Homo sapiens: one gene and its partner. The protein of the gene in region 1 purifies or fractionates together with the protein of each later gene. This does not show direct contact. Each region holds a gene or a part of one and is shown on either strand. Other genes may lie near its edges.

The links. The genes of interacting proteins can lie anywhere in the genome.
Region 2: the proteins of ANKLE2 (region 1) and PPP2CB purify together in Homo sapiens (affinity purification with mass spectrometry; 6 studies listed by BioGRID and IntAct, with this or other methods). This does not show direct contact.

What each region holds. Positions count from the first base shown.
Region 1 is NC_000012.12:132,748,227-132,751,980, forward strand, and holds part of ANKLE2 (ankyrin repeat and LEM domain-containing protein 2), read right to left. Parts: intron 2,624-3,754; coding exon 2,417-2,623; intron 106-2,416; coding exon 1-105. UniProt on the Homo sapiens protein: Involved in mitotic nuclear envelope reassembly by promoting dephosphorylation of BAF/BANF1 during mitotic exit.
Region 2 is NC_000008.11:30,785,070-30,788,823, forward strand, and holds the end of PPP2CB (serine/threonine-protein phosphatase 2A catalytic subunit beta isoform), read right to left. Parts: intron 1,239-3,754; coding exon 1,166-1,238; 3' UTR 547-1,165; downstream 1-546.

The sequences.
Region 1 (3,754 bases):
CCACAGCTTTCCGAAGCTTGGCGGTGAGGTCCTGCGTGCGGGGATTTTTGTAACTGTTCGCTCGCTCTTTGTTGACTGTTTCTGATTCCGACAAGCACAAACCATCTGTCAGTAAGAGACAGAATTTAAGAACAATCAGTTTCACCAAAAGTCACTCATCACCCATGCACCCTCTGATGAGGGATAAGCAGCTTTCCACAGAGGCTTCTGGGCCAACTGGGAGGCACAGGTGAGAAAAGACGAGAAGGGCCCACGGCCACCGGCCCCAGCATGCAACGCAATCAATGGCAGCCAGCGTGCCCGTCAGCAGAGCAAGTGAGGGAGAGCAGCCAGACCCGGCCACAATCTCACTGGGGGCCCCAGCCTACAACGGCAGCCAGCGCGCCCCCATGAGCACAGCAAGTGGAAGAGCAGCCAGACCCTGCCACAATCTTGCTGGGAAAGGCTCTGTGAATGAGGCCAAGTTTGGTGAACTTTGTGTTTTTTCAGAGACAGGGTCTGGCTCTGTTACCCAGGCTGGAGTGTGGTGGCACGAATATAGCTCACTGCAGCCTCGACCTCCTGGGCTCAAGTGATCTCAGGCCCTCAAGTAGCTGGGACTACAGTTGTATGCCAACACGCCTGGCTTATATACATATATATATATATATATATATACACACGTATTTTTAGAGATGAGGTCTATGTTGCCCAGGCTGGTCTCAAACTCCTGGCTTCAAGGGATCCTTCTGCCTCAGCCCCCAAAAGTGTTGTAATTACAGGGACGAGTCACCACACCCGGCCAGTGAACTCTGAAAGCTCGGTCAGTAGGTGGAGGAGGAATAACGGCAGCAGCGGGCAAGGGAACACTCCCAGAAATCACGCAAGACCTTCGATGTGCACAGTGTGGCTGCAAAGGATTACAGGATTAAGGAGCCTGCCACCACGCCCAGCTGATTTTTTTGGGGGGGACGCAGTTTTGCTCTTTCGCCCAGGCTGGAGTGCAGTGGCGCGATCTCAGCTCACTGCAACCTCCGCCTTCCAGTTTCAAGCAATTCTCCTGCCTCAGCCTCCCAAGTAGCTGGGATTACAGGCACCTGCCACCACGGCCAGCTAATTTTCGTATTTTTAATAGAGACGGGGTTTCACCATGTAGGCCAGGCTGGTCTCAAACTCCTGACCTGAGATGATCCACCCGCCTCAGCCTCCCAAAGTGCTGGGATCACAGGCGTGAGCCACCTCGCCCGGCCTGATTTCTGTCTTAAGGTGATTTCCTTCTGAGGAATCCTCACAAATTGCAAAGAAGGAAATCCGTACCTGTTAGAAGCCACTCTGGTTTCCATCCAGGAAGCACCTGTATAAGGCTGACTGAGGGCAGGCGGATGACTGGAAGGAGAGGGCAACATTCCTCTGGAGTACCAGCCCGCCAGGGAAGCCCAGACAACTGTGAGCTGCGAGAGGGAGCAGGAACTGAGGCCAGATGAAAGGTAAAGGCGGAGGTTCTACCCCACACTGACCGTGAAGAGCCTCTTCACACAAAACCCTAGTTCTGAGCTGGGAGGTGGGCATGGGTCAGACTTCGGGCTGGACCGCTCCTACAGATAAGCCCGCCTTCTCCAGATGCCCTAGTCCTTGAAGTAGGTATAGCTTCAGGTGGGGAAGTAGACTGGTTTCAGGATCCAAAAAGGCGCAGGGGCTCACGCCTGTCATCCCAGCACTTTGGGAGGCTGAGATGGGAGGATCACTTGATGCCAGCAATTCAACCAGCCTTGGCAACATGGCAAGACCCTGTCTCCATAAAAAAAGTTTAAATTCTAGCCTGGCCAACATGGTGGCTAAAAATACAAACATTAGCCGGGTGTGGCAGTGTGCACCTGTAATCCCAGCTACTCGGGAGGCTGAGGCAGGAGAATCGCTTGAACCCGGGAGGTGGAGCTTGCAGTGAGCCAAGATCGCACCACTGCACTCCAGCCTGGGCGACAGAGCAAGACTCCATCTCAAAAAAAAAAAAAAAAAAAAGAAAAAGTTTAAATTAGCTGGGTGTGGTGGTGCACGCCTATTTCTCAGCTACTTGGGAGGCTAAAGCAGGTGGATTGCTTAAGCCCAGGAGTTTGAGGCTGCAGTGGGCCATGATAGCACCAGACTGCACTCCAGGCTGGCAAAAGAACAAGACCCTGTCTCTTTACAAAAAAAAAAGAAAAAAATCCAACAGACACGGGGACAGATGGAAGCGGCCACAGCGTTCTTTTCAGCTTCTCCAGAGTCAAGATGCTAATTACACGAGCATCAGAGCCAGCATGGCCTCCTGGTCCACTGAGACCCCATCGACTCTACCCTCATGGAGAAAACAAGTTACCACATCAGAGGAAAGAAGGCACAAAACAGGGTGGGATCAATGTGACAGGAACATCAAGATGTGAACGGCTGCATGATTTACCTTTCAACCTGTCATTGCTAAAGAGTGGAGCTGTTTTCACAGGAGACAGTGGTAAGGACGTTTTGCTTGGAGAAGGGAAATAATCACAAATTCCTCTAGCAAATTTCTCAGCGTCTTCTCTGGTAGAAAAAGCTTTAAATCGGGACCCTTTGATCATCTTGACAGCTTGCAATGCTTCCTTTTTATTTTCATAAACATAGATCCTTTCTGGGTAAGAAAAGTAACAAATGAAAATCAGAGAAGAGTGACTGGAGAGCTGTCACCTGGCCATGCCCTGGGCCTAACCATCAGCTTCCACATCTGCTACCCAGTCGCCTGGCTTAGTTCAGATCTTTAATCCTGAAGAAAAAGGGCCTAAGCTAGCCAAAATAGAACAATTAACAAGCTCGACAGTGTGCATATATGCATGTAACATGATATATATTATGTTCATATATGTAATTCTATATGCCAAGATTCTATCCTAAAAACTAAATTTCATATAAAGATCTAAATAAAAATTATTAAAAGGCAAATTAAAAAAAAAAACTATAATTATGTCAGCCAAGAACATAAGAGAATTTTAAACACAATTTTGAACAGGGAACGCCTTTTTATTTTTTACTTTATTTTTTTTTTTGGAGACGGAGTCTCGCTCTGTCGCTCAAGCTCAAGTGCAGTGGCACGATCTTGGCTCTTGCAACCTCTGCCTCCCAGGTTCAAGCGATTCTCCCGCCTCAGCCTCCCGAGTAGCTGGGATTATGGGCATCCGCCACCATGCCTAATTTTTTGTATTTTTAGTAGAGACGGGGTTTCATCATGTTGGCCAGGCTGGTCTCAAACTCCTGACCTCAGGTGATCTGTCCGCCTCGGCCTCCCAGAGTGCTGGGATTACAGGTGTCAGCCACGGCGCCCAGCCGGGAATGGCTGTTTTTTTTTGACATGGAGTCTCACTCAGCTGCCGAGGCTGGAGTGCAGTGGTGTGATCTTGGCTCACTGCGACCATCATCTCCCAGGTCCAAGCGATTCTCCCGTCTCAGCCTCCCGTGTAGCTGGGATTATAGGCACCGGCCACCATGCCTGGCTAATTGTTGTATTTTTAGTAGAGACGGGGTTTCACCATGTTGGCCAGGCTAGTCTTGAACTCCTGACCTTAGGTGACCTGCCCACCTCAGCCTCCCAAAGTGCTGGGATTACAGGCATGAGCCACTGTACCCGGCTGGGAATGCCTTTTTAAACATGCCAAGAAACCATTCAAAACAAGATAATCCTGATTATATAAAAATATTAAAGCTCTGTAGTGGAACTATCACAATTAAGTTTTGTATGAGACTATCGTAAATACATAAGATATACACT
Region 2 (3,754 bases), on another chromosome or scaffold:
GCTCAAGCAATCCTCTTTTCTCAGCCTCCCAAAGCAATGGGATTACAGGCATGAGCCACCATGCCCAGCCTATTTTTTATTTTTTAGAGATGACATCTTGCTATGTTGCCCAGGCTGCCCTCAAGCTCTTGGGTTCAAGCCATCCTCCACCTCAGCCTCCTGAGTAGCTGGGACTATAGCCATGTCCCATTGCCCTGCTTTGAAAGATTTTATGTCGTTTCAAGATAGCAGGCCAGGTGTGATGGCACACATCTATAATCTCAAGAATTTGGCAGGGCCACTTGAGGCCAGGAGTTCAAGACCAGCCTGGGCAACATAACAAGATCCCGTCTCTACAAAATATTTTACAAATTAGCTGGGTGTGGTGGTATGTTGAGTGTAGTCCCAGCTACTCAGGAGGCTGAGGGAGGAGAATGGCTTGGGCTCAGGAGTTCAAGGTTGAAGTGAGCTATGACTGTGCCACTGCACTCCAGCCCAGATGACAGAGCAAGACCTGGTCTAGAAAAAATAAAGTTTTCATTTAATGCACAACACAATAAATGAATGTTTTTGTTTAAAATGAAAAGTTTATTTGCTGAGTACACCAAATAGGATGCAAGCACTGTCATGACAAATATACAGAAATATGCAGATCAACATAAAACAGTAATTTAGTTTAAATGAAGGGAAATCTCTTTAAATGTTATGACAACATACTCCCAAGAAGAACCTTTTCTTCAGTTAAGTTAATTATACATTTCAATAAAATAAAGGATAATGGATTAGTGGAAGTTAGCTTGTGAATTTTTCTTAAAAATAAAACTCCAACTCTATTAATCCATGCCAGTTAAACACTATAACTAAAATTTCCAAATAAGCGCAAAAGGAGATGAAGCAGTTAGTTACCTTTTTTGCTTGAACAGTCCAAAGGAAAATGGTTACTATAAATACAGCAGGCAAACTGTTAGACTGACCTAGAACATAGTGTACTAAATTTCAGTCTCAAATTGTGCTAAATGCTCATCATTAGTATGGCACATTTGGTCCATGATGTGGTTTAATGCCAAGACAGATCCCAATTTGTTACAGAAACACATAGATTACTGTTGCTTTTTGTTTTTAAATACATATATTTTAAAAAGCCAGGTATACTTCCACATACAAAGGCAGGTTTCCCAGGAGAAATTTATAGGAAGTAGTCTGGGGTGCGCCGTGTAACATGAGGCTCACCACGACGAGGCGCTGGGTCAAATTGAAGGCTGTAAATGGCAAAAAAGGAAGCAAATAAAGGATCTGACTTTGCAAAGAAAACAAATGAATAAAGAACAAGACACTGTAGTAGAAACAGCAGTCCTGCTTTCCCACCATGACTACATCACTTACGGCTGGAATGGCCATGGGCAAATCACTGCAGATGCTCCCATTCCAACTAACTGCTTCATAGGGCTATGGTGAAAATTTAAGAAGACAGAATGTCTGGTTTGGTGCCTGGCATAACAATTTCTAAATGTTATTATTATTTAAAAGCTTAAATAATTAAAGATTAAATAATATCAAGTTTAAATAATTAAACAATAATTGTTTAATATTATTTAATAATAATAATAATATCACTTTTTTTTTTTTTTTTTTTGAGGCAGAGTCTTGCTCTGTCGCCCAGGCTGGAGTGCACTGGCACGATCTCGGCTTATTGCAAGCTCCGCCTCCTGGGTTCATACCATTCTCCTGCCTCAGCCTCCTGAGTAGCTGGGACTACAGGAACCCATTACCATGCCCGGCTAATTTTCTTATTTTTTTTTAGTAGAGACGGGGTTTCACCGTGTTAGCCAGGATGGTCTCATCTCCTGACCTCATGATCCACCCGCTTCGGCCTCCCAAAGTGCTGGGATTACAGGCGTGAGCCACCGCGCCAGGCCTAATATCACTATTTTCTTGAGTGTTTCTGGCTAGTGGATTTTTCCAATTATTTTTGTGCCTCTATTGAGATGATCATGTGTTTTTTAATCCCTTAATATTAATATGGTTTATTATATTGATTTTCATGTTTTGAACCAACCTAGCATTCCTGGGATAAATCCCACTTGCTCATGGTGTATAATCTTTTTACATATTGCTAGATCCAGGTTGCTGGTACGTATGTTGGAAAATTTTATATCTGTATTCGTAACAAATGCTGGTCTGTTTTTGCCTTTGTCTACTTTTGGTATCAAGGATAATAGTGCAGGTGTGACAGAATGAATGCAGTAGTCCTCCTCTTCTGTTTTTTGGAAGTGTTTGTGAAGGATTGGCATTAACTCGTTTTTATTTTTGAGACAGGGTCTCACTCTGTTGCCCAAGCTGGAGTGCAGTGGTGTGATCATGGCTCACTGTAGCCTCAACCTCCCTGGGCTCAGGTGATCCTCCCACTTCAGCTTCCTGAGTAGCTGAGACTATAGGCTGAGCCACCACACCAGGTTAATTTTTGTATTCTTTGTAGATACAGGGTTTTACCATGTTACCCAGGCTGATCTTGAATCCTGGGCTCAATCTGCCTGCCTTGGCTTCCCAAAGTGCTAGGATTACTGGTTAGAGCCACCGCACCTGGCCAATTCCTTTCTTTAAACATTTGGTGGACTTCATCAATGAAGCCAATTGGGCTTGGCCTTTTATTTGTGGGGAGTTTTAACTTTTTCACTCATTTATTTATATTCTTTTAAATTAAATAGGGACAAGGTCCTGCTATGTTGTCCAGGCTGGTCTCAAACTCCTAGTCTCAAGCAATCCTCTCAGCTTGGCCTCCCAAAGCTGGGATTTATAGGTGTGAGCCACCATGCTGGCTCAATATTTTCACATTTGAAAGGTCATTCAGATTTCATATTTCTTGAGTCAGTTTCAGTAGTTTCTTTTTAGGAATTAGTACGTTTTATCAAAGTTACTGAATTTGCTGGCATATAGTTATTTATTGTATTCCCTTATAATCCTTTTTATTTCAGTAAGGTCTCTAGTGATTTGGTAATGTGAGTCTTTACTCCTTTTTTTCTTGGCCAGTCTAGTTAAGGCTTTTCAAAGCATCAACTTTGGGTTTTGTTGATTTTTCTGTAATGATTTTCTACTGTTTGTTTATTTCTACTCTAAACCTCGTTTCATAAGCTTACATCAGGTTTAGTTTACTCTGCTTTTTCTAGGTCCTCAAGTATAAAGATAGGTTACTGATTTCAAATCTTCTTGTTTTTTTTTTTGTTTTTTTCTTTCTGAGACAGGGTCTTTGCTCTGTTGCCTAGGCTGTAGTGTAGTGCTGTGATCATAGCTCATTGCAGCCTTGATCAACTGGGCTCAAGTGATCCTCCATCTCAGCCTCCCATACAGCTGAGACTACAGGTGCTTGGCACCATACCTGGCTAATTTTTAAATTTTTTTGTAGAGACGGGGTCTCCCTATGTTGCCCAGGCTGGCCTCAAGTGATCCTCCTACTTTGGCTTCCCAAAGTGTTGGGATTACTTGTGTGAGCCACAGCATCCAGCCATGTTAATGATTTCTAATTTCATTTCCTTGTGTTTGGAGAATATCCTTTTAAGAATCTAATCTTCTTAAATTGCCTGAGGCATGTTTTACAGTCTAGCATATGACTATGTTTCATGTTTACTTGAGAGGAAAGTATTCTGCTGTTGTTGGGTGTTGTTTTACAGACATGAGGTATACAGTCAGTTTACAGTGTTGCTCAAGTCTTCTCCTGCCTTCATCTCCTGCCTAGTTGTTCTATCCAAGAGAAACAGTTTCTGTTGCTTAGTTTTTTCCT